Homo sapiens: one gene and its partners. The protein of the gene in region 1 interacts with the protein of each later gene in a biochemical or structural test. Each region holds a gene or a part of one and is shown in the gene's direction. Other genes may lie near its edges. The genes, in order: CTSS, CLDN3, SERPINB3 and CST5.

Evidence for each region.
Region 2: of the proteins of CTSS (region 1) and CLDN3, one has a biochemical effect on the other in vitro, tested with the Homo sapiens proteins (one study listed by IntAct).
Region 3: the proteins of CTSS (region 1) and SERPINB3 form a complex in vitro, tested with the Homo sapiens proteins (one study listed by BioGRID).
Region 4: the proteins of CTSS (region 1) and CST5 form a complex in vitro, tested with the Homo sapiens proteins (one study listed by BioGRID).

What each region holds. Positions count from the first base shown.
Region 1 is NC_000001.11:150,762,769-150,769,836, reverse strand, and holds the start of CTSS (cathepsin S isoform 1 preproprotein), read left to right. Parts: upstream 1-4,058; 5' UTR 4,059-4,139; intron 4,140-5,072; 5' UTR 5,073-5,073; coding exon 5,074-5,199; intron 5,200-7,068. UniProt on the Homo sapiens protein: Thiol protease. Key protease responsible for the removal of the invariant chain from MHC class II molecules and MHC class II antigen presentation. The bond-specificity of this proteinase is in part similar to the specificities of cathepsin L.
Region 2 is NC_000007.14:73,768,474-73,774,861, reverse strand, and holds CLDN3 (claudin-3), read left to right. Parts: upstream 1-4,591; 5' UTR 4,592-4,812; coding exon 4,813-5,475; 3' UTR 5,476-5,865; downstream 5,866-6,388. UniProt on the Homo sapiens protein: Barrier-forming claudin. Plays a major role in tight junction-specific obliteration of the intercellular space, through calcium-independent cell-adhesion activity.
Region 3 is NC_000018.10:63,654,688-63,658,920, reverse strand, and holds the end of SERPINB3 (serpin B3), read left to right. Parts: intron 1-290; coding exon 291-408; intron 409-1,508; coding exon 1,509-1,651; intron 1,652-1,934; coding exon 1,935-2,090; intron 2,091-2,859; coding exon 2,860-3,264; 3' UTR 3,265-3,724; downstream 3,725-4,233. UniProt on the Homo sapiens protein: May act as a papain-like cysteine protease inhibitor to modulate the host immune response against tumor cells. Also functions as an inhibitor of UV-induced apoptosis via suppression of the activity of c-Jun NH(2)-terminal kinase (JNK1).
Region 4 is NC_000020.11:23,876,720-23,884,372, reverse strand, and holds the start of CST5 (cystatin-D precursor), read left to right. Parts: upstream 1-4,624; 5' UTR 4,625-4,696; coding exon 4,697-4,927; intron 4,928-6,754; coding exon 6,755-6,868; intron 6,869-7,653.

The sequences.
Region 1 (7,068 bases):
GAAATCGTGTAAAACAGACAAAAGTAGAGGCTAGAGTTCTTTGAATATACCTCATTGTGATGATTTCACTTTGGATCCACATAAATGTTTTACATAATTATAAAATGAAATTACATAAGTGTAAAAAGCAAGCCCTAAAAGGAAGAAGTGAAATGAAACAAATAAACCTGTGTATGGAGGTGGAGCATAACCATACAGGGAACTATTCCAGGTGACTTCAAAACACAGTAATTGACTTACATCGTTAGCGACATTTGGCTTAATGGAGAAAAACCTGTCCCCCTCCACTTTAAAACCTCTAATTTGTTTTCATTAACAATCTTATTGGCGTAGGCTTGTTGTTGTTATTCTGCAATTTTACAGGATAAATTAAACAAGTACTTGAGTTGATATTTTAGAGAACCCAGATTTTTTAAGCATGTTTGAAAAGAAGTGCAGATATAAGATTGATGGGGTGAGTAAACCCTATAGTCTTGAATTTGAATTTGAAGTATCAGTGTCAGCTTGTGATTTATTTAATTTTTTTAAAAAAGATATTTCTTAGCTCTAGCTACTGAAAAGGCTTAGCAACAATGGTCAATCTGCTATCCCAAACACTGCTAGTTCCTAGATTATGGTATTTAAACATTGTTTCCACTAAAAGGAACCAGAGCTCCTTGGAGAAATGGCTGATTCCAGGTCTGGGGCAGGAATTGTTCAAGACAAACCTGCAATAGCCTGTCATATTAGAAAGAAAGGAAGCTTTTAAAGAGTACTAATATTATGCCAAATATACAAACTCTGTCTGCACCAAAGAGCCAGTTTGAATAAATTCCTACAGACCAAAAATGAGACAATATGAGTATCAATAAGGATAAAACTGGAATGGATTGAAACACATCAAATATGTTTAAATCCATGAATTCATAATGATATAAACATAACTCAATGGTTTCACAATATATGGAGCTTATTTAAATCTCAATTCAAACAAACTATTAAAAAATGTATAAGACAGTCCAGAAAATGTGAACATTGATAGGATGTCTGATGACATTAAGAAATTATTGTCTTAATTTCTTATGACAATAAAGTGGCTCACACCTGTAAACCCAGTACTTAGGGAGGCTGAGGTGGGCAGATTACCTATGGTCAGGAGTTCGAGACAAGCCTGGCCAATGTGGTGAAACCCCATCTCTACTAAAAATACAAAAATTAGCTGGGTGTGATGGCACATGCCTGTAATCCCAGCCACTTGGGAGGCTGAGGCAGGAGAATCGCTTGAACTCGGCAGGCAGAGATTGCAGTGAGCTGGGATCACACCACTGCACTCCAGCCTGGGCAAGTGAGTGAGACTCTGTCTCAGAAAAAAAAAAAAAAGAAAATTATTGTTCATTTATTTTAGATGTGATGATGGTATTGTGGTATTATATTTGTTTAATAGTCTCTGTCTTTTAAAGACACACACAGGGACATTTACGTATGAAATGACAGAATGTCTAGAATTTATTTAATATAATTCAGGTAGTGAGAGTGGGAATATAAATAAAATAAGATTGGCCATGTACTGATCATTGTTGAAACAAGACAATGGTTTCACGGCAGCTCATTTTACTACTATTTTTACTTTTACATGTGTTTTAAATTTTCCATAAGCAGTATCTTTTTAAAAAAAACTGTATGGCTACAAACACAAACATGTCTACTACAGCTGAGATGAATCAACATTATAATGATGTTACTTCTCCCTAAATTTATGCATATATTCAAATAAAAACTCTAATAGCCAGATGTGGGGGCTCATGCCTGTAATCCCAGCACTTCAGGAGGCCAAGGTGGGCAGATTGCTTGAGCCCAGGAGTTTGAGGCCAGCCTGGGCAACATGGTGAAACCCCTTATCTACAAAAAACAAAAAACAAAATCAGCCAGGCATGGTGGTGTGCACCTGTAGTCCCAGCCACTCCAGAGGCTGAGGCGGGAGGATCACTTGAGCCCAGGAGGTCAAGGCTGCAGTGAGCCATGATTGCATCACTGCACTCCAGCCTGGGTGACAGAATGAAACCCTGTCTCCAAAAGAAAAAAGCAAAAAACTCCAACAGAGTTTTTCAGGGAACTTGATAAACTGATTCAAAAAATTCATATAAAGAAGAGTTAACAAGTACAAAATACAAAGACAATGTTTAAAAAGAAGAACAAAGATAGGGTGGCCTAGATGACTTGCCTTACCATACGTGGAGACATATTACAAAGCTGTTTTAATTAAAACTGTGTGATACTGAAGTAGCAAAAGATAAAAAGAACAGCTTCATGAGCTCAGAAACTGACCTATCTATGTATGAGAATTTGGTGTACAATAGAGGTAGAATCAAAATTGGAAAACAAAGAAAATAAGCTCCCTACGTCATACCATACACAAAACTAAATTCCAGGTGAATTAAACACCTAAAAGCAGTAGCCATAGAAAAGATAAATAAAACACTCTCTGAAAGTATAAAAATAAGATGAGTGTATCTTTATTACATTTGGATGAGGAAAATTTTCTTATACAAAAACAGTATAGATTGATTATACGGAAAAGCTGAATAAAATGTTCTACCTCAACATAAAAAAATTTCATATAGAAAAACTCACTATAAACAAGACTAAAGGACAAGTGGAATTTCATAGGCTTATGCAAAGGAAGAAAAAATAAAATAAAAGACAAGTGGAAGACTAAGGGAGGATGTTTTTAAGGGTATATAACTGTCAAAGATTAGAAGCCAGAATATATTTTTAAAACACATACACCTTGGCCGGGCACGGTGGCTCACACCTGTAATCCCAGCACTTTGGGAGGCTGAGGCGGGTGGATCACGAGGTGAAGAGTTCAAGACCAGCCTGGCCAAGATGGTGAAACCCTGTCTCTACTAAAAATACAAAAATTAGCTGGACATGCTGGCAGGTGCCTGTAATCCCAGCTACTTGGGAGTCTGAGGCAGAGAATCGCTTGAACCTGGGAGGTGGATGTTGCAGTGAGCCAAGATCGCACCAATGCACTCCAGCATGGGAGACAAAGCACGACTCCGTCTCGGAAAACACACAACACACACACACACACACACCTCCCACAAATCACTAAGAAAATGCAACAATACAATAGAAAAATGAGCAAAAAAGATGAACAGGAAATTCACAGAAAATTCAAACGGTCAATAAATGTGTGAAAAGATCCTCAACCTCATTAGTAATTAGGAAAATGCAAATTTAAAAGATGATAGTTCGTCTTGCTCCCACCCCACCCAGGTAATCATTCTCAATTGGATATATTTGAGTGTATCCTTTTTTCCATGAATATACTAACACATACACACACACACACACACACACACGCATATTACTAAACTATACATATAGTATATATTAATAAAGACATTTTGAGTTTGATGAACGAAGGAATGGCTGAGTGAGAACCAGACAATATCAGATCATGAATGAGTTGTGTTAAAAGCAGTAAGACAGGTTTTCCTAGGAAATCATACAAGGAGCTGGGATTTGGGGAGCTTTATCTAAATCTCTTTATAACTAAATGTTTTCCATGTAAAAGTTGGTGTTTTTAAAATTCAATTTAATTTTTTTTTTGAGATAGGGTCTTGATATGTCATCCAGGCTGAAACACAGTGGCATAATCATGGCTCACTGCAGCCTTGTCCTCCTAGACTCAAGCAATTCTCCCACCTCACCCTCCCCCTCAGCTGGGACTACAAGCATGCACCACCATGCCCAGCTAATTAAAAAAAATTTTTTTGCAGAGACAGGGTCTCACTATATTGCCTAGGCTGGTCTTGAACTCCTGGCCTCAAGTGATCCTCCCGCCTCAGCCTCCCAAAGTGCTGGGATTATAGGCATGAGCCACTGGGCTCAGACAAGGGCTCTTCTTGATGGCTTACTGTATCCACTTTGTCCCCAAGACCATAGGGAAATGACTAGAGGTGACTGTACTAGCTAGATTTTAAATGAAACTGAAATGAAAGTTCACTTCCTCATTTTGAGTACCTCATGTGACAAGTTCCAATTTCTTTTCAAGTCAATTGAACTGAAATCTCCTTGTTGCTTTGAAATCTTAGAAGAGAGCCCACTAATTCAAGGACTCTTACTGTGGGAGCAACTGCTGGTTCTATCACGTATGTACTCTTTGTTCTTTTTCTCCCATTTGGTCTTCAAACACTCTGTGTTTGTAACTTGTTCTGCCTGCTAGGTTTTAAATCTTTGGTTTCAGGAAGTAAACTAAAAAATCGTGTCGTTCAATTTGCCTCTTCTCTATTTTTAAAAAGTTAATGTCTGCTTGAGCATCTAAGCATCTAAGTTGAGACTGAAACATGGCTTTCTTTGGAATATAATTTAAAGGCTTACATGTTTAAAATTCCAGATGTTTTCAATTAAAAAGAAATGGAAAAGAAAGTAGAATCCAGTTTGAGGGAGCTAGTCGCTGAATTTCTGTTGATGTCTCTTGAATTAAATACAGAAGTGGCATTTTAAAGAGTAGTTAATTGCCTCATTTGAAACAGATGTCTGATCATTAAAAAAAAAAAAACGTAAAAAGGAAAATTACCTACCTAAAGATGTGAAAGCAATAGATGAGAATTGTCTTTTAACTATCTGTAAAGACTGTGGATATTTAAACAGGTCAGTTAAGAAGAGCCCATGTATTCAAAAATTCAGGAGATAAACTGATTTTTCAGAGGTTTGTCTCTCTTAAGGATGATTTTTTTTTTTTTTTGAGAGAGAGAGAAAGAGATTTCCTTTGATTAGATTTGTTGGCAAATCCTGGAAAGTCCCTGTTTTCTAACCCTCTAGATGTGTTTGGTTTACCAGATATTGGGAAATTCCTGGAAATCACTTTTTAAAGTGCTACTAAGCATTGGAAGTAGTATTTCTGACATAAATCTGCAGCTGTTCCCTGTGACTATATATCCCAGGAATTTTCCTGTATAATTCTGTTTATAATAGTCTGTCCCTTTGATAGACTTTGCATTGTTATTTTCTCTTATGAAAACATGTGGTCACAACATATGCAGCTAATAGCAACACTTCCTATGTTACCTTTCCTTACACAGAATGAAACGGCTGGTTTGTGTGCTCTTGGTGTGCTCCTCTGCAGTGGCACAGTTGCATAAAGATCCTACCCTGGATCACCACTGGCATCTCTGGAAGAAAACCTATGGCAAACAATACAAGGAAAAGGTAGATTGGATTGCCACTCGAGCGATATGCTTTTAAAGGAGTACTGTTTTCTACCTCTTAAAATTGTGTTCTTACAGGCAGTGTTTTCAGTAAATATTTAAGCTGGGTGTGGTGGCTCGCGCCTGTAATCCTAGCCCTTTGGAAGGCCAAGGTGAGCGGATCACCTGAGGTCAGGAGTTCGAGACCAGCCTAGCCAACATGGCGAAACCCCATCTCTACTAAAAATACAAAAATTAGCTGGATGTGGTGGTGGGCGCCTGTAATCCCAGCTACTCGGGAGGCTGAGGCAAGAGAATCACTTGAGCCGGGAAGGCGGAGGTTGCAGTGAGCCAAGATTGTGCCATTGCATTCCAGCCTGGGTGACAGAGTGAGACTCCATCTCAAAAATAAATAAATAAATATTATGTACTTGTTTCTTGCCAGATACTGTTCTTGGTACCATACAGCAGGAATCAAAACAAAATTCCTGTTATGGAGCTTATATTATAGTGAGAGAGACAGGAAATAAGAAAATAAACAAGCAGATATGTAGTATGCTAGATGGTGATAAGTGTTGTAGATAAAAATAACAGAAGGCATGGAGAGTAGGAAGGGCCCTGGGTGGTGGTGGTGGTAAGAAGTCTATCTATATGACAGGAGGGTTAGGGAAGGCCTCACGGATAAGGGTGCCATTTGAGCAGAGAATTGATGGAAGCCAGGGAGCAAGCAAAATACATAATAGAGTGAAGGTCTCAGGCCAAGGGCAAATCAGCACAAGCTCCTGAGGAAGGGCCACATTTGGGATGGCTGAGGAGCGAAAAGGCGTTAATACCCACATAGTGTGGCCAGATATTGTTTCTTGACTATCACTTCCCATTTTGTACTTTTGTTTTTATTTCAAAGCACACTTGCTGATGTTAAGACCTTAACCCTACTGCTTTAAATAACTAAGTCCTGTAACTATGTAATATTTCTGTTTGTAAGCTAGCATCATATATTTATTTATTTGACATATTATTTTGTATAAAAATGACACTCTTAGGTCATACACTCTAAGTTTTATTTTTATTTATTTATAATTAAATAATAATTGTGTCTATTTATGGAGTACAATGTGATGTTATGATACAAATATACATTGCAGAATGATTAAATTAGGCTAATTAACCTATTCAGCACCTCACATACTTATCCTTTCATTGTGATAAGAACATTTAAAATCTACCCTTTCAGTAATTTTGACATATAAAATACATTATTATTATTATCTGTAGTCACCATGCTATGCAATAGATTGCTAGAATGTAGTCTTCTTGTCAAATGAAACTCTGTACTCTTTGCCTAACATCTCCCCTTTCCCTGTCTACCCTCCGCCCAGCCTCTGCTAACCACCATTCTACTCTCTACTTTTATGAGTTCAACTGTTTTAGATTCCACATGTAAATGAGATTATGCAGTACTTGTCTTTCTGTGCCTGGCTTATTTCACTTAGCATAACGTTCTCTAGACCCATCCATGTTGTTGAAAATGACAGAATTTCCTTTTTTTTTTTTTAAGGCTAAATAGTATTCCATTATGTATGGAATACAATATGTACCACACTTTTTTATCCATTCGTCTTTTAATGGACACTTTATAAGGTTGATTCCGTATCTTGGCTATTGTGAATAATGCTACAATGAACATGGAAGTGCAGCTATCTCATTGACATACTGATTGCGCTTCCTTGGGACATATACCCAGAAGTGAGATTGCTGGATGATATGGTAATTATATTTTTAGTTTTTTGAGGAACCTCCATACTGTTTTCCCAAATGGCTGTACTAATTTACATTCCTACTAAAAGTGTATGAGGGTTCCCTTTTCTCCACATCCTCACCAACACTTATC
Region 2 (6,388 bases), on another chromosome or scaffold:
GTGCAGTAACACAGTCATAGCTCACTGCAGCCTCAAACTCCTGGGCTCAAGCAATTCTCCCACCTCAGCCTCCCAAGTAGCTGGGAACTACAGGTGTACACCACCATCCCTGGCTAATTTTTTTTTTTTTTAAGTAGAGACAAGGTCTCGCTATGTTGTCCAGGCTGGTCTTAAACTCCTGGCCTCAAGCGATCCTCCTGCCTTGGCCTCACAAAGTGCCGAGATCACAGCCGTGAGATACCGCCCCCTAGTCACATTTATTGGCCATTTTTATACATTCTTTCTCTATTCTAAATGTCTGCTCAGTTTCTTTGGCCATTTTTTAATTGGTTTATTTGTCTTTTTATTATTGAGTTGTAGGAATCATGGTAGGTATTGAGCAAAAAGCTGATTGGAGCTGTGTTTGCCCAGAGGCAAAGTCTTATTTGCAAAGTCCCTGAAGTTTGGCCTCTGGGCATGAAGCTCTGTCCTGCTGGCCTCATCTCAGTGCAGCCCTGCCCAGCAGGTCCACCTCCCCCAGGCTCAGGGACAAGCCCCAAACCCAAGCAACTCAGGACAACTCTTGTCTCACAGATGGGGAAACTGAGGCTCAAGGTGGTAAAAGGACTGGCTCAAGCGCTCGTGACCCAGGAGAGCAAAGCCAGGCTCAAGTTCAGATCTACCTTTTCTCTGTACAATTTCTCTGGACATATACATGCCCTGCCTGGCTGTTTTCTGCTTTTATAGCATACTTAACATCGCCTCTATTCTTACCATAACCCTGGAAGTGAGTCATGCAGACACCATTTCCCTAATTTTATAGAGGAGGAAACTGAGGCTAAGAGAGGCGACGTGACTTTCACCAGCCTCAAGGCCAGCAGGCGTAGGGCTCACAGTGCCCAATCCAGGCACAACTGGCAGTGCAGTGGGGACCACTCTGGGCCTCAACCCCTAGTCTAAGCCCAGCCACACCACCTGGAGGGTCTACTTTTCTTCTGGCCCAGAGCCACCCCCACTCACCAGGAAACTGTAGCAGCCAGTAGTCCACTGGAGGACTTGAGTTATATGAACTTCCTCTAGAACAGCTCCACCCAGCACCAGCTGGGCCCTCTGGACTGGCACTCCCAGATCTGCCCAGGCCCTGCCCAACAGGTGCAGCCCAAGACCTTTGCTCCTGAAAGAAGTAGAACCCTGGTTTCCATGAGCCCCTGACACTGTTTCTTACTCTTCTTCTTCTTTTCTTTTTTTTTATTTTTTTGAAATGGAGTCTCGCCCTGTCGCCCAGGCTGGAGTGCAGTGGTACGATCTCAGCTCACTGCAACCACCGCCTCCTGGGTTCAAGCGATTCTCATGCCTCAGCCTCCCGAGTAGCTGGCACTGCAGGTGCATGCCACCACGCCCAGCTAATTTTTGTATTTTTAGTAGAGACGGGGTTTCACCATGCTGGCCAGGCTGGTCTCGAACTCCTGACCTCAGGTGATCCACCCGCCTCAGCTTCCCAAAGTGCTGGGATTACAGGTGTGAGCCACTGCACCCAGCCATGTTTCTTGCTCTTCTATCATTCCAAGGCTTAGGCATTTACAGAAGAGGGCACAGGCTGCATGCCTGTGATTTGAGATATGGAGGCAACCCCAAAAAACCCCAAGGCCCAGCTCAATGGGGTCTCTCTTCTCTCTGGAAGAGCCCTTGACTCCTACAAGATGACCAAGCCCCCTTGACTCAGCACAGCAGTATCCCTTTATCAGTCATTTATGCCAGTAGGAAAGCCTGGGTAGGCAAGGTTGAAGGAACATGAGAAAGTCTTCCCTTCATTCAAGTCACTAAATCGACTCTCTGTTGAGTACCCAACACCATTCTAGGCAATAGGAATGCAGCAGTGAATAAAACCAGCAAAATTCTTGCCTGTTCTGGGACATTACAGATGTCCCAATGGAGCTGACATACTGGAACAGAAAGAAAGAAACAATTTAAAAATTGGCTGGGTGCCATGGCTCATGCCTGTAATCCCAGCACTTTGGGAGGCCAAGGCGGGCAGATCATGAGGTCAGGAGTTCGAGACCACCTGGCCAATATGGTGAAACCCCATCTCTACTAAAAATACAAAAATTAGCTGGGCGTGGTGGCACGTGCCCGTAGTCCCAGCTACTTGGGAGGCTGAGGCAGAAGAATTGCTTGAACCCAGGAGGTGGAGGTTGCAGTGAGCCGAAATTGCACCACTGCACTCCAGCCTGGTCAAAAGAGCGAGATTTCGTTTAAAAAAAAAAATAGGCTGGGCACTGCTGCTCACACCTGTAATCCTAGCACTTCGGGATGCCAAGGTTGGGGGATTGCTTGAGACCAGGAGTTCAAGACTAGCCTGGGCAACACAGTGAGACCCCATCTCTACAAAAAAAAATGAAACAATTAGGTGGGCTTGGTGGTATATGCCTGTAGTCCCAGCTACTTGGGAGGCTATAGCTAGAGGATTGCTTAAGCCCAAGAATTCAAGGCTGCAGTGAGCTATGATAGTACCACTGCACTCCAGCCTGGGTGACAGAGCAAGACACTGTCTCTAAAATAAATAAATAAATAAGTTATTGAACGTTCCCAGCACAAAGAAATAAAAGTTTGAGATGATGAATATGCCAATTACCCTGATATGATTACTATACATTCTATGTATTAAAACATCACTGGGTGTGCCACGCGTAGGTACGATCATTGCCAATTTAAAATTTTTTTAAGTACAATGAAACATAAATAAGAAAAATATAGAATATTGTCCGATGGTGTTACATGCTAAGCAGAATATAAAGTATTAAAGGGGGGCAGGCATTGTGGGGTAAGAAACTGCAATTTTATTTTATTTTATTTTATTTATTTTATTTTGAGACAAAGAGTCTCGCTTTGTCACCCAGGTTGGAGTGCAGGGGTGTGATCTCAGCTCACTGCAACCTCCACCTCCTGGGTTCAAGCAATTCTCTTGCCTCAGCCTCCCGAGTAGCTGGTATTACAGGCGTGTACCACCACGCCTGGCTAATTTTTGCATTTTTAGTAGAGACGGGATTTCGCCACGTTGGCCAGGCTGGTCTGGAACTCCTTACCTCAAGTGATCCACCCGCCTCAGCCTCCCAAAGTGCTGGGATTACAGGCGTGAGCCACCGTACCCAGCCAGAAGCTGCAGTTTTAAATAGGGTGGTCAGGGAAAGACTCACTGAGAGCAAAAAGCTGAAGGCAGTTAGGAGTAAGCTATGTGGATGTCTGCAGGCATGTTCCATGTACAGGGGACAGTAAGTGCAGGGACTCTGAGGCAGGGGCATGTGGTATGCAAGGGCTGCTCTGAGGGGAAGAGAGGGGATGGGGTTAGGAACAGCCCAGGCTGAACCTCCAAGGCCAAATCTGAAGGGCTCTGAGCTTGGTGAAGAAGGGGGAACGATCGTCCAGGTGTGACAGCCAGGGCTTTGAGTGTAGCATTTCTGACTTCCCAACCTTTTTTTTTTTTTTTTTTTTTTTTTTTAAACAGGGTCTGCTCTGATGCCCAGGCTGGAGTGCAGTGGTGCGATCATAGCTCACTGCAGCCTCGAACTCCTGGGCTCAAGTAATTTCCTGCCTGAGCCTCCGGAGTAGTTGGGACTATAGGCACACGCCACCACACCTGGCTAGTTTTTTAATTTTTTGTAGAGACGGGGTCTCACTATTTTGCCCAGGCTGGTGTCGAACTCCTGGTCTCAAGCAATCCTCCCTTCTCAGCCTCCCAAAGTGCGAGGATTACAGGAGTCAGCCACCACGGTGCTCGGTCCTGCCCGATTTCCCACTTTTGCGGAGATCGAACCTCTTTCACCACCATTTCATTAAGGTGGGCCTCAGCCCTGACTCAGGCTCAAAGGGAGGGAGGACAGGGCTCGGAGAGGGGAGGGGACTCAATGGGAGGAGGGGGACTTCTGGGAGGGGAGAGCAGCTTAGCTAAAGGCATGCAGGCTCACGGCCAGCGATGGGAACTGGAGGGAGAGCTGGAGAGGAATTTGAGCTTAGTTAGGCTTAAGGGCATCTTTTGGGTACCTTTGCGCAGGCAGTCCCTGGCTTCTGGGCCCAGCAATTCCTGGGCTGGACAACCCCACCGCCCGGACTCAGGCTGAGCCTGTGCGACGTGTGTACGGGAGGGGCAGAGCAGCAGGTGCGCGGCTCCTGCAAACAGCCGCGGCCACGCCCACCCTGGTCCTCCCCGCCCCGCCGTTCCGGGGTAATTGGCAGCGCCCCCATCCCCACGCGGCACGTGCCAAAAGCGCCCAAAGTGGTGAGGAGAGAGAAGCCGTGTCAAATTCTTTGGGATTTGCACCCCAAGCCCCTGACGCATCCCGTCCTCGGTTTTGCCCCGGAGAATTCATTCCCGAGCAGAGAGGGACAAGGACCGAGGGGCGGGGGCTGGGTCAGGTCCCGCCCTTCCTTGGCAACCCCCCTACCCCGGCGTTGTGGGCCGCGCAGGGCCAAGTCCTTCCTCCCAGGACGCTCGGTGAAGGTGGGAGGCAGGGGCCACGTCACTGTCCTTAGGCCCTGGAGAGCGCGGCTCCGCCCCTACCGCCCCCACCGGAGCGCTGGGCACTTAGCTAAGACGCACCGGCCCCAGCCCAGGGCCAGCCCAGTCGCCGCCGCCCGCCCACAAAGCCACAGGCAGGTGCAGGCGCAGCCGCGGCGAGAGCGTATGGAGCCGAGCCGTTAGCGCGCGCCGTCGGTGAGTCAGTCCGTCCGTCCGTCCGTCCGTCGGGGCGCCGCAGCTCCCGCCAGGCCCAGCGGCCCCGGCCCCTCGTCTCCCCGCACCCGGAGCCACCCGGTGGAGCGGGCCTTGCCGCGGCAGCCATGTCCATGGGCCTGGAGATCACGGGCACCGCGCTGGCCGTGCTGGGCTGGCTGGGCACCATCGTGTGCTGCGCGTTGCCCATGTGGCGCGTGTCGGCCTTCATCGGCAGCAACATCATCACGTCGCAGAACATCTGGGAGGGCCTGTGGATGAACTGCGTGGTGCAGAGCACCGGCCAGATGCAGTGCAAGGTGTACGACTCGCTGCTGGCACTGCCACAGGACCTTCAGGCGGCCCGCGCCCTCATCGTGGTGGCCATCCTGCTGGCCGCCTTCGGGCTGCTAGTGGCGCTGGTGGGCGCCCAGTGCACCAACTGCGTGCAGGACGACACGGCCAAGGCCAAGATCACCATCGTGGCAGGCGTGCTGTTCCTTCTCGCCGCCCTGCTCACCCTCGTGCCGGTGTCCTGGTCGGCCAACACCATTATCCGGGACTTCTACAACCCCGTGGTGCCCGAGGCGCAGAAGCGCGAGATGGGCGCGGGCCTGTACGTGGGCTGGGCGGCCGCGGCGCTGCAGCTGCTGGGGGGCGCGCTGCTCTGCTGCTCGTGTCCCCCACGCGAGAAGAAGTACACGGCCACCAAGGTCGTCTACTCCGCGCCGCGCTCCACCGGCCCGGGAGCCAGCCTGGGCACAGGCTACGACCGCAAGGACTACGTCTAAGGGACAGACGCAGGGAGACCCCACCACCACCACCACCACCAACACCACCACCACCACCGCGAGCTGGAGCGCGCACCAGGCCATCCAGCGTGCAGCCTTGCCTCGGAGGCCAGCCCACCCCCAGAAGCCAGGAAGCCCCCGCGCTGGACTGGGGCAGCTTCCCCAGCAGCCACGGCTTTGCGGGCCGGGCAGTCGACTTCGGGGCCCAGGGACCAACCTGCATGGACTGTGAAACCTCACCCTTCTGGAGCACGGGGCCTGGGTGACCGCCAATACTTGACCACCCCGTCGAGCCCCATCGGGCCGCTGCCCCCATGCTCGCGCTGGGCAGGGACCGGCAGCCCTGGAAGGGGCACTTGATATTTTTCAATAAAAGCCTTTCGTTTTGCACTCGCTGGAGCCTCCTTGTTCCCAGCGCCTCCACCTCCCTGCAGAGCTCCCCCTCGGGGCGGCCTTGGCTGGATCTCGCTCTCCCGGATGGAGCTTAGAGGGAAGATGGGGTTGTAAGCTGAGCTTGGTGATGGCGGGGTGGTCACTTGCCCACTCCCTGGGGATTCGGAAGACAGCCTGTGAGGCCAAAGCCAGCGCCCAATCTAGGAAGCAGGCATGAGCACTTTCCGCACGCCATGGCTGGGGATGGGAGGGGAAGGTGGCAGAGATGTGCCCCTGGGTCTGTGCTGGGAGCCCGGACCCCGCACAATACCCGACACATTCGGAATCTCCCGTGCGCCTTGTGAAAGAGCGCATTCCGTACTGCCATTTCCTATTGGAAAAACGAAAACAAAAAGACCTATTGTTTGGATAAAACACGCCACCAAAAGTAAAACCGGGCCAAATCTTCTCACCTGGGGGAGAGATGAGAAAGGGTCCCCATCTCCTTCCTGGGACCCTCAAGGGAGGGAAAGAGGGAGGA
Region 3 (4,233 bases), on another chromosome or scaffold:
CAATGAATCTCCTTCAGGGAAGCCTGCTCTGCAGTTTGCAAACCACAGCCTCTTCTGCTTCTGCCTTTTGCCAGATGATATTGACCTTCGGTGACCTCTTTCTTGCGCCAGCCCGCACTCCGCTTTTGCATTGCCTACATGGCACCAGTATAAAAATATGCATGGACAGGAGATACTGCATCTATTCAGGGTCTGGATTCAGCTTACTATAATTATAAATAACTAAATTTGGTAATATATAGTTACATAAATTACTCTTACTTCCTACTTTCTTCCTTCATATCTCAAAGGAATATTTAGATGCCATCAAGAAATTTTACCAGACCAGTGTGGAATCTGTTGATTTTGCAAATGCTCCAGAAGAAAGTCGAAAGAAGATTAACTCCTGGGTGGAAAGTCAAACGAATGGTAGGAGAGCCACCCATTATAGAAACACCTTTGAGAAATCTATGCGAGTGAGCCCTATGCCTGAAACTGCATGGGGGACCATGGGTGGGAATTGAGATGGCTTTGCAGGGAGGGAAGAAGAGGGCACTCCAGATGAAGAGTTTTTCCAAATGATTATGAAGAGAGCCTAGGGGAGCCAAGGAGGAAATCACAGGAAGCCAATTAGAAGAAAACATAGCCGGAGGATTCTTTGCTCATGTTCCTGGATGACAATAGCTTTGTGGATCCCTTGTCTCCACTCAGGTCCAATTTGAGATCATGTCCTTTACTTTAAATCAGAACCAATATTTTATGATGAATATTTAAAAGGAAACATTAGAAAGCATCTCCCTTCCCCTTTACTAATTGGGAAACAAGCAGCTCTCTGGTAAATCACCCTTTTGCCATCTGAACTAGAGCTGCCTGGATCACATCTCTAGCCACAAGTTCTGCAGGGATTATCACAGCTCTCTTCCCCATCAAGGGCAAGAGCTTAACAAATTCTCCATTCTATAGACATCTATCCTACCTCCCACCTCTCATTACAGGCCAAACTTACAGCAACTCAACATGAGAGTGAATAGGAAGATACCCCCGGAAGTAGTGTCTGACAGCACAGGACATGCGTTTCATATTACAGAGCTCATGTCACTTGTCCTAAAAAGCAGTCAGGGCCTACTTCCTCTGAATGGGGACCCCGTAGTTAAAAAAAAAAAAAAAAAAGTAGGAAGAGGAGGGAGGGAGAAAGGAAAGACACATGTTGAAAGAGTAGACAAAATCAGTTTATCAGTATTCCAAATCAGATGAATGGACTCATTCATACACAGAGAACGTGAACTCCTTCTCTATCACAAGAAGTGATGTCTCCATTAAGGGCAACTTTATACGACTGGAGCCTTGAAGAAAGCTGCATCTGGTGAACCACTGGTCAGTGAGTCTAACAATTCAAAGATCAAAGTCAGTGAGTCTCAAGTAGGGATTTGGGTCAATAATTAACGATCAGTCACGAACATTTGCAAAGCATCTTCCAGACAAGCCATTTGTAGCTTGTGTAAAAGACTCTTTTATTCTTTCCCTTGCAGAAAAAATTAAAAACCTAATTCCTGAAGGTAATATTGGCAGCAATACCACATTGGTTCTTGTGAACGCAATCTATTTCAAAGGGCAGTGGGAGAAGAAATTTAATAAAGAAGATACTAAAGAGGAAAAATTTTGGCCAAACAAGGTATTGTCTATATTTTATTTATATAATGTAATATGTTAATAAATTTAAACATTTCTGATGGAATGTACCATGACAAGTAAAAAATAAAATTGTTCATGTCTGTTTTTTTGTTGTTTTAGTCTTATAACTTTATTTAGTTAGGAATTCCTGAAGAAGCTATTGTCTCTAACTCATTACATTCTTGGATTATTTCTTAAAAGAAGGATGTGTTGATATCTCAATAATATTATCTTTTTGCCTTGTGTCTCACTTGGTATTTGTTGGACACATTGATTTATTGTAGAATACATACAAGTCCATACAGATGATGAGGCAATACACATCTTTTCATTTTGCCTCGCTGGAGGATGTACAGGCCAAGGTCCTGGAAATACCATACAAAGGCAAAGATCTAAGCATGATTGTGTTGCTGCCAAATGAAATCGATGGTCTCCAGAAGGTAAGAACTTGCATCTACAACTCTTCCTTCTACTGCCTGACATTTTTCCAAAGATACCAAGTTTAAACAAGGTAAAAGCTGGTGACCGAGTTGCCTCAAAATAATGAAAAATTCTAAATGAGGAATGATGACTCACCTTCATATTACAAAGATTTAAGCATAGGGCCTGACACAAACTGAAGGCATAGTTAATGATTAATTTATTAGAGTTACATGCATTGGATATCAATTTAATGATATTATTATGCAGCAATTTAAACTTGACTGGGAGAAATATATAGCAATGTGAGGAAAGTTTACGAATACACCAAGTAAAAAAGGGAATAGAAATTTAGGAATTTGGGGAATTGCAATTTAATAATTGCAATGTGTACTAAATAATGTATACAGAAAAATAAGATGAGCCTATTAAAAATTGACACATGTAGTAGGCTGTTGGCACAAGAAATAGTGATATATATAGTTCATTGTGTACAAAATAATGTAATCATATTTTTACATGTGTATCATACAGTTGTATACATACATATGTACACATTACATATACATAAAAACTTGATTCTGTTTATACACATACACATATAACCCAATGTATTTATATATCCAGGACTCATATTTTGCCTATTAGAATAATAATATCTAATAAAGTGAACCTTCTGTATTTCACATTTGTTGCCAAAATAAGGATTCTCCACATAGTCAATTCATTGTTAAGGTGTATTAGAAATCAACAGTTAGTCATATCAGTTTCTTTTTTCCATTTGTATAGCTTGAAGAGAAACTCACTGCTGAGAAATTGATGGAATGGACAAGTTTGCAGAATATGAGAGAGACACGTGTCGATTTACACTTACCTCGGTTCAAAGTGGAAGAGAGCTATGACCTCAAGGACACGTTGAGAACCATGGGAATGGTGGATATCTTCAATGGGGATGCAGACCTCTCAGGCATGACCGGGAGCCGCGGTCTCGTGCTATCTGGAGTCCTACACAAGGCCTTTGTGGAGGTTACAGAGGAGGGAGCAGAAGCTGCAGCTGCCACCGCTGTAGTAGGATTCGGATCATCACCTACTTCAACTAATGAAGAGTTCCATTGTAATCACCCTTTCCTATTCTTCATAAGGCAAAATAAGACCAACAGCATCCTCTTCTATGGCAGATTCTCATCCCCGTAGATGCAATTAGTCTGTCACTCCATTTGGAAAATGTTCACCTGCAGATGTTCTGGTAAACTGATTGCTGGCAACAACAGATTCTCTTGGCTCATATTTCTTTTCTTTCTCATCTTGATGATGATCGTCATCATCAAGAATTTAATGATTAAAATAGCATGCCTTTCTCTCTTTCTCTTAATAAGCCCACATATAAATGTACTTTTTCTTCCAGAAAAATTCTCCTTGAGGAAAAATGTCCAAAATAAGATGAATCACTTAATACCGTATCTTCTAAATTTGAAATATAATTCTGTTTGTGACCTGTTTTAAATGAACCAAACCAAATCATACTTTTTCTTTGAATTTAGCAACCTAGAAACACACATTTCTTTGAATTTAGGTGATACCTAAATCCTTCTTATGTTTCTAAATTTTGTGATTCTATAAAACACATCATCAATAAAATAGTGACATAAAATCATTTTTGCTTTACATTTTCTCTCTGGAAAGGGAAAGTGTCCAGTTACACACAGGAAAGACAATTTAGAGATATATTAATCACAAACAAAGGAAAATTAAAAACAGAGTAGTTCATGATGAGCCTGGAGTAGAAGGCATATCCCAGAACAGGAGGAGCCTTGTAAACCACATTAGGAACTTCCTATTTTATGCTAAAGGGATAAGAAACTCATTACAGGCTTTGATGGTTGTTTGTCAAAGAGGGGCATAAAATTATCATATCTTCATCTTGAAAATACATCTCTGGTTACTCTGATATCAATGGATGAGAGGAAAGAACAGTGTGGTTACCATATATAAATCAGGAAATCATTAGAGTATTGGGGGTGGAAATGAAGAGAAAGAAACAGCCTGGCAGAATTATTTAGGAAGTAATAGTTAAAAAAAGACATCTAAGTTTCTGAGCTATCTGACTGGAAGGATGGAAGAAAATGTTGTTTTTGAGAGAAAAAAAAGACCATGGGTTTAAAT
Region 4 (7,653 bases), on another chromosome or scaffold:
TCAAAGGTAGGGGTTTCTGGCTGAACTGACCAAACAGGATTCTTGCTAAAGGCAGGACACAGCCTTAGACATCAAAGCTGAGGGATGAGGAACTTGATCAGATGTCAAGGGTGATCAGACCCCAAGGACAGCAGGATTCTCCCTAAAAGGAAGCAGGATTCTTTCCTAAAACTGAGCAATGCAGACCTGGCAGGTAGGAGCTGGAGACCAAGGTTGAGGCCTAGTGAAGAAGGCTCAGAGGAGCCTTAAAGTTTCGTTAGAGAGTCTTTTCACTGGATCCAGCTCCTCTGTGACAGGAGGAGAGGGCAGGCAGGGCCACAAGAGCAGGCAGGCTGTCCTGATGGCCTCTGGCTCCAGCTCCAGCACCCACTGATTGAGTGTAACAGGATTCCAGGCAGGAACAGGAACCACTCTCCACAGCCACTGCAGTCTGCTAAAGGAATTGATATTTAAGGTTAGACAAACAGTGACAGGGAAGTCCCAGCAGTGACCTGAATGGGGATTAGAAAGGAAACTCTCACCACACAGAGATGCCAAGGGGATTGCTCTCCCCTCAGAGCCATCTGTATTCTCCTGGGCCAGGCCCCTGCAGGCTGGGACCAGGGAGTTGGGGGAAGTCCCTGGGTGCATCAGCAAGCAACCCGAGTTCCCAAGGAACTCTCCCTGTCCTCTCCACTCGGCTGTGGTTCTCTAGCCATGGCTCTGCTAGGAAGAATGTACTCCTTGAGAAAATAAATAGTAACCTTGCAATCTAAAATCCTAAGTGCTGTTTACACATTGATCCCTGAGCAGGAAACTTCCCAAGGATTCTCTTTCCCTCCATAAAGGGCCAAACTCTCAGACCTCAGATCCTGGGCTCTGTACGCCCTTTTCCTGTAGGGGCTTTGGGCATGCTTCACAGCAAGTACCAGAGTTCATAATAATGTGGCCTCATCCCCATCAGAGCCCAGATGCTTACCAATGGTGGCCAATGGTCCAGGAGTATCTCAGGTCCCCCACAGTTGGGAGCAGGGAGGGGGAAGGAGGAAGGGTGTGCATAAGGGACAAGCTTGACCCCAGAGAACTCGCAGCACTCCATAAAGGAGGATTCTGGGCTTCCCCTTTGAGAAGCCAACAAATCCCGTGGCTGCTCAGTCCCATCTCCTATCACAGACACTGAATGTTAATTGCTCAAAACCCGGATGTGCAGAATCTCAACTCTTGGCCAACTTGATCTAACCACTTGCACTTTAGGTGATGTTTATGCCCTTAGGTATTTATTGGTTATAATATTGTTTAGTGTTTCCCTTTACTGCTTATTTATTATAGAGAACTTCTGTCACTCACCTAATTTCTCACTCTACTAATTCAATCATGGGATCAAGTTACACACGCAACCTGGGAGAACACGGCTTTCTCTTTCATCCACTGGCAGAAAGGAAACATGCCCCCTCCTGGGCAACTGGACTCCTCCAGATTACGAAGGTGCTGGAGGCCCCAGGCTTGGTCCTGAGTCCATTGTTTATCTCTGGGTCCCTGCCAGCCTGTCATTGGAGCTGTAAGCTATAGGAACTAAGTCTCCATCTTTTTTTGAGATGGGATCTCACTGTGTTGCACAGTGTGGTCTGGAACACCTGGGTTCAAGAGATCCTCCTGCCTCAGCCTCAAGAGTAGGTGTACAGGCATGCCATAACACTGGGCTATTGTAAATTTTAACCACACTTAAATGTCACTGCAGAATCAAACTTATCTTGCTGGTTTTGAACCACCAGACACCACCATTTACAAAGCAGCTCACCTTTCCATATGCATGACACATAGAGAAGGCAAAACATTTTCCCAAGGTCACCCAGCAGCTGGAGCAGCTGTCCATCTACCCTAACCTTCCACTTACCATCACCCATACTGGATGCATCTCTTGTAGTTCCTGAGAGTGCCCTACATGGGGGTCTGACTACAAAGATTAGAGTGGCCACTGTATCAGGCCTGTTGACCCTCCCTATAGCTCATTCCAGTGTCCTGACAGAGGATGACCACTGGCGGTGGCATCACATACAGGGAAATAGGCCAGCACTCCAGCTCCCACCCCATACTCCACCCACCACCATATGCCTGTTATGTGGATGACCTGCATCTCCTTCCTAATGATAAAAGATAGGAGAGATTTGTATGTATTTCAGCTTACCCTCTGCACAACACATCCTCCTGAGAGTTGAGACCTAGCGGCCAGGGAAGGTGGGAGCCACAGAGGAGACCCAACTCCCACACTTGGGAGATGACCATTCTGCCCACAAGCACCTGGCCAGGGACTGCCCTCTCTTTCCCTTCTCTGGGAATCTCCCCCAATTTCCTGTCTAACTAGGAGGCATCACGTGCAGCCCTGCTTGAAGACCTTCCCTCCCTCACCCAGCAGTAAACACTATCCCTGGGCCACCTGCTGTATCTGCTGGAGTGCATGGCTTTTCTAGGGGTGCTGGATTCACAGTGGGGTGCAATGGTCACTGGGCCTTGGGTAAAAAGGTCCCCTGTCCTCATACTGAACATGAGCACCCATGAGTAATATTGTTCCCGCTGTCGGGTTCCTGCTGATGCAGCCCCAGCCATGGCGGAGCCCCAGGATTATAGCAGGTCTGGGCTGATCCTGGCCGACCCTCACCTCCACCACTCCCAGGAGAGTCCTCTGGGTGTCCTGCTAAGGCCCAGGGTTTCCTGGTGTTTCTGGCCAAGCCTGCCACCTCGCCATAAGGGCATTTGCCGCAGGATCACCTTCAGGCATGGAGGGGGGGTTGAGAGAACAAAGGGAGCAGCTGTCTGTTCAGAGCCTCCTTCCACCCTCCCTACTCCTGAAGTCACATTCCAGTCCAGGCCCACAGCATCCCGAGCTGGGGGCTTTGTCAGCCCACAGGGCACCCAACTGACCACATCCTCTCAGTCTGTGGAGAAGGAGAACTCTCAATCCTGGCAATGAAGCCACGCTGAGCAAAGGACGAAGACACACCTGGGCTCTCTCTGCAGGATTCCATTCCTGGGAAGCTCAAGGACAGGCAACAAAGGAGTCCACAGGACCAGATGTGGGCTGCCAGGGTCGGGTGGGCATGAGGGTGGGCTTCAGAGGCAGGAGGAAACCATCTGGGGTGAGGCAGATATCACAGGTGTGGACAAAGTGGTAACACAAGTGTATGCATTTATGAAATCCCCCAGATTGGGCACATACAATTAGGCATTTTATTGTGTGTAAATTCTACCTCATTCAATGTAATTTTTAAAATATTACATGAGTTTTCCAAGCAGTGTACAGAGGACCAGTGCTGGCAGCACGTCTCCCAGAGGGGAGGAGCAAGAGAGGCTCTTGGGCTCCCACATTCATCCTGTGGCTGCTGCTCCTTCTCCTGACACCCCCACCACCTGCCAGGGGTCTCCCTGCGCCTTCCACCTGGACACACCCACAGTTACCGTGAGACTCCAGGTCGTTCCCTTCCCTGCTCACACCCCCTCCAGGAGCTTCCTCTTCCTGGAGCAGGCATGCCCAGCCTTGCCTCAGGGCCTTTGCACTGACTATTCCCTGCTGCCTGGGGCTTCTCAACCTTTCCGGTCTCTTAGAGACTTCCCTGACCAGGGTCCAGTAGCACCCACCCTCTCTCTAACTGAGCGACTATAATTCCCTGATCTAAATTGTTGATCACCACTCTGCATCCTCCCACACACCCTAATGGCTGGGCTATGCAGTACCACAGCCACCAGCAGCCACTCGTGGCCACAGGGCACTTGAAATGGGGCTAGTCCACAGTGACGCTTGGTCTAACTGTAAAAAATACACAGGGAACTTCAAGACATTACACTCACACAAAAGAATGTAAACTAGCTCCTTAAGAATAGTCCTGAAGTGTTGAAGTATTTTGGATATATTAGGTTAAAGTAGAAATACCAAAATTACTTTCAGCTGTATCTTTTAACTTTTTCAAATGTGTTTTAAATTGCTCCTGGGTTTCTGTCACATCTCTGTTGGATGGCAGCTCTGCAAGTTCATGTCTACGGCTCTATTGCCCAGACTGCTTGGTGCAGGGGGAAGCTGGTGACAGGTTTGTTTATTGAATAATGAGGAGTTATGAAACGAGAACCCAGTGAACTTTACCCAAAGGTTAATTACTTTATGTTTGGCAAAGAAGTTCCCCAGAAGAGGGCATGGACAAGGTCATCCCGGAGCTTCTGAAACAGCTCCCTGCCCCAGGAATTCCCAGACCATGACCACGTGCTCCTGGATGCCCCTGACATCTGAAGACTTTAGAAGGCCAAGCCCTGTATTTCTCCCTTTCCTGTGGACATAGGTGGTCACCAGGTTTCACAGCCCAGGGAGCGGTGTCACCTCTCTGGAATCCAGAGTGAGCCAAGCTTTAGAGCACTGAGGAAGAGGGGCAGGGCTGTGGGGAGGTTGCGGTCAGGACAGGAGTGGGGAGGAGGATGAGGAGGAGGCATGGGAGGAGCGAAGGGAACTTAGGGAGGGAGGGAGGTGGTTGGGGGTGGAAAGGGAGATAGAGACAGAAGAGGAGGGGTAGAAAGAGGAGGAGGAGCCAGGGGCGGGGCCAGGGAGCAGGTGGGGTTGGGGGACACCCAAGTAGGATAAATGCACAGCTAGCTTCTGGCCTGGGCTTCCTGCCTCAGCCTTCTGCTGCTTTGCTCTCTGGGAGATCCAGCTCCTTGCTCTGTGTCCCAGTAGAACATGATGTGGCCCATGCACACCCCACTGCTGCTGCTGACTGCCTTGATGGTGGCCGTGGCCGGGAGTGCCTCGGCCCAATCTAGGACCTTGGCAGGTGGCATCCATGCCACAGACCTCAATGACAAGAGTGTGCAGTGTGCCCTGGACTTTGCCATCAGCGAGTACAACAAGGTCATTAATAAGGATGAGTACTACAGCCGCCCTCTGCAGGTGATGGCTGCCTACCAGCAGGTGCGTGCTACCACCACCCTGGGGGTCCTGAGTCCCAGCTGGGTTTTTTGCCTCACCCCCCAGAGCACTCCCAGCAAATCAACATTATCTAAACCGCAGACTCATTCAGCTTTCTCTGACTGTCTGCTGATGGTCTTCATGCCCTAGGACACTCCTTGGCCGTGAGTGCATGAGTTCAGCCCTGTCCTGTCCCCTCGGCCTCTTTTAACCTGCAGCAGCCACTGTGTCTGTACCATGACTGTGGCATTTCCCAGGGTCCAGCAGGTGTGGATGGAGACTGTGCTGACTCTGGGTGGGCTTGATGCTGCTCAGGATGAGATCCAGGCCACGAGGTTCATCTTCCTCCCTGAGTCCTCTCCACAGGGGCCACACGGGAACCTGACTCCTTGTCCTGGATAGCCCCGCTTCCCTCCCAAGTCACGCCCCTGGGCACAGCCCGTTATGGCTAGTGGCCTTCACTCTCAGGCTGGCTGACCACCCCCTACAGCCCAGGACAGCTGAGTTCCTGCTGGGGTAGAGCATGCCTGACCCTGCCTCTGCCAGCTAACGCAGAGTTAGACCTCAGCAAAATGAGGACAGCAATCACCCAGCAGAGTGAAGGAGGTGGTTGGGTCCAGAGGGAGGAAGCTTCAGCAGGGCTACCGAGCCCAGCTTGACCTACGTCCCATGGCAGAGCAGCAGTGACACAGCGACCACAGGGCTATATGGCCTGCCAGCCTTTAGAGCTCCTCCACCTTCTCTTGGAAAGTCAGAGGAGTCCAGACCAGCCCTGTTTCTCCTCCTGCAGCCCTCTCCCTGCACAGGAGGGGCATTCCCTGGTGCTGTGGTCCCTGCTGGCCTGCACTCCCTCTTAAGTGTGTCACTCACTGGGAGTGAAGCACAGAATGATGTAGATCGTTGGGCCCTGGAGCCTATTTTACAGAGCAGCAGACTGACACCGGAGGGATCACAGGACTTCCATGTGGTTCTACAGGACTTGTGTGTGGTTCCACAGGGCAAGGTCTAGCACCCTGGTCCCAGGGTCCCTCATCCCATGCTTCTCCACAGTTCTGACAAGTCATGTTTTGGGGCGGCACTGTGCAGGGAAAGCATTCAGTTCTCTTCTGAAGTTGCAACCCTAAGACATGCAGGTGTGTGACTCACTTTAGAAATATTGCCTTGAAAATCACACCTGGAATGGAGGCATGCAGGAGGCAATGTTTATTGGCCTAAAACATCAATGTATGTGAGCATCTCATCTCCTACTGAGAAATGAGGAAAAATACCTCTGGGTTAAATGGCAGGAATGAGATGCTCTGTGGACTGAATGCCAGGAGCTGGAAGTTAGCTGAAATTTCATCATCAGGTGGCAGCCTTCCTAGGATGGGACCAGTGTCCCTGCCCCCTGAGCACAGGTAGCAGAATTCAGTTAATCCTTTGCTGTGGGAAAGAGCATTCACTTGGTGCTTAGACCCTGCCCTGCAAGCCTGGTGCCAGGACTGTTTCTTTGTCCCACCCTGGCTGGTTCCCCAGAGCTGTGCCTTCTGTTCCTGAATCCAGTGAAGGGGGTTTTAGGCCCTGGCTTCCATCTGCCCTGCCCCTGCTTCTCTTTCTACTGGGCTGCATGAGACAGCTTGCTTGAGATACCCAGAGAAAACAAGTTACTAGGAAGGACTGGGACACACTACCACTGCCAGCCAGCAGGAGAAGGTGGCTTGTGTGCCTTTTGGGTGACAGTGTGGGCATGAAGCCCCAGGCAAGCCCAGTGACTCAGTCACAGTGAAGTGCCTGCGTGTGCATGAAACTGACAGCATGCTGCCCCTGCTTCCTGCTCTTCCACGCGTGTAGATCGTGGGTGGGGTGAACTACTACTTCAATGTGAAGTTCGGTCGAACCACATGCACCAAGTCCCAGCCCAACTTGGACAACTGTCCCTTCAATGACCAGCCAAAACTGAAAGAGGTATGTGCCTGATGTGGGTCAGGGGCATCAAGTACCGCAGAGCAGTGTGTGCATGTGTGTGTGTGTATGTGTGTGTGCACGCATCTGTACTCCTGCACATGCTTTGGAGGGCATGTGTGCATGTGTGCAGATATTTGTGGGGCCACGTATGCAAGGATGTATTCATGTGCATGGGAGGATGCATGTGTGTTTGGCACACATGTGCAGATGTGTATTGTGAAGTCAATGAATGTGTTTGTGCATATGGAGTTTTGTGTATGCATGAATGAATGTGTGGGATGGTGTACACATGTGGCTATGCATGTAGAAAGATGCATATGTGTGCATACATGAGGAAGATGCACAGGAGTGTGTGTGTGCATGTGTGTGGATGTGTGAAGGAGTATGTGGGTTCATGCATATATTCGTTTGGGTGAGGGTTGCTGTGAGTTAATATAGATGCCTATGTGTGTGCAGATGGAGTGGTGTGGATAGGGGTGATGAATTTGTTTTGCTAGGAAGACTTTAGCTTGGTAATGGTTACTGGGAGGTCAACTCTGCCTGCTTTGGGGTGTTGTCTGTTGGACTGGAGGAAGAAGCTGCTGGGCTGGGTTCTGGTCAGAAAGAAGGGGCTCTGTCTAACCCCAGCCTCAGGCACCTGCCTGCAGCCACAGCCACTCTGAGCACATTAGAAGGAATTAAATGCCTGTTAGCTGAGAAGCCCTGGACCTGCCCCAGCTCACCCAACATCAGCCTCTCCAAGAACCCAGGATTTCTTTCGAGGTCTCTGCTCAAGGCAGAGCCAC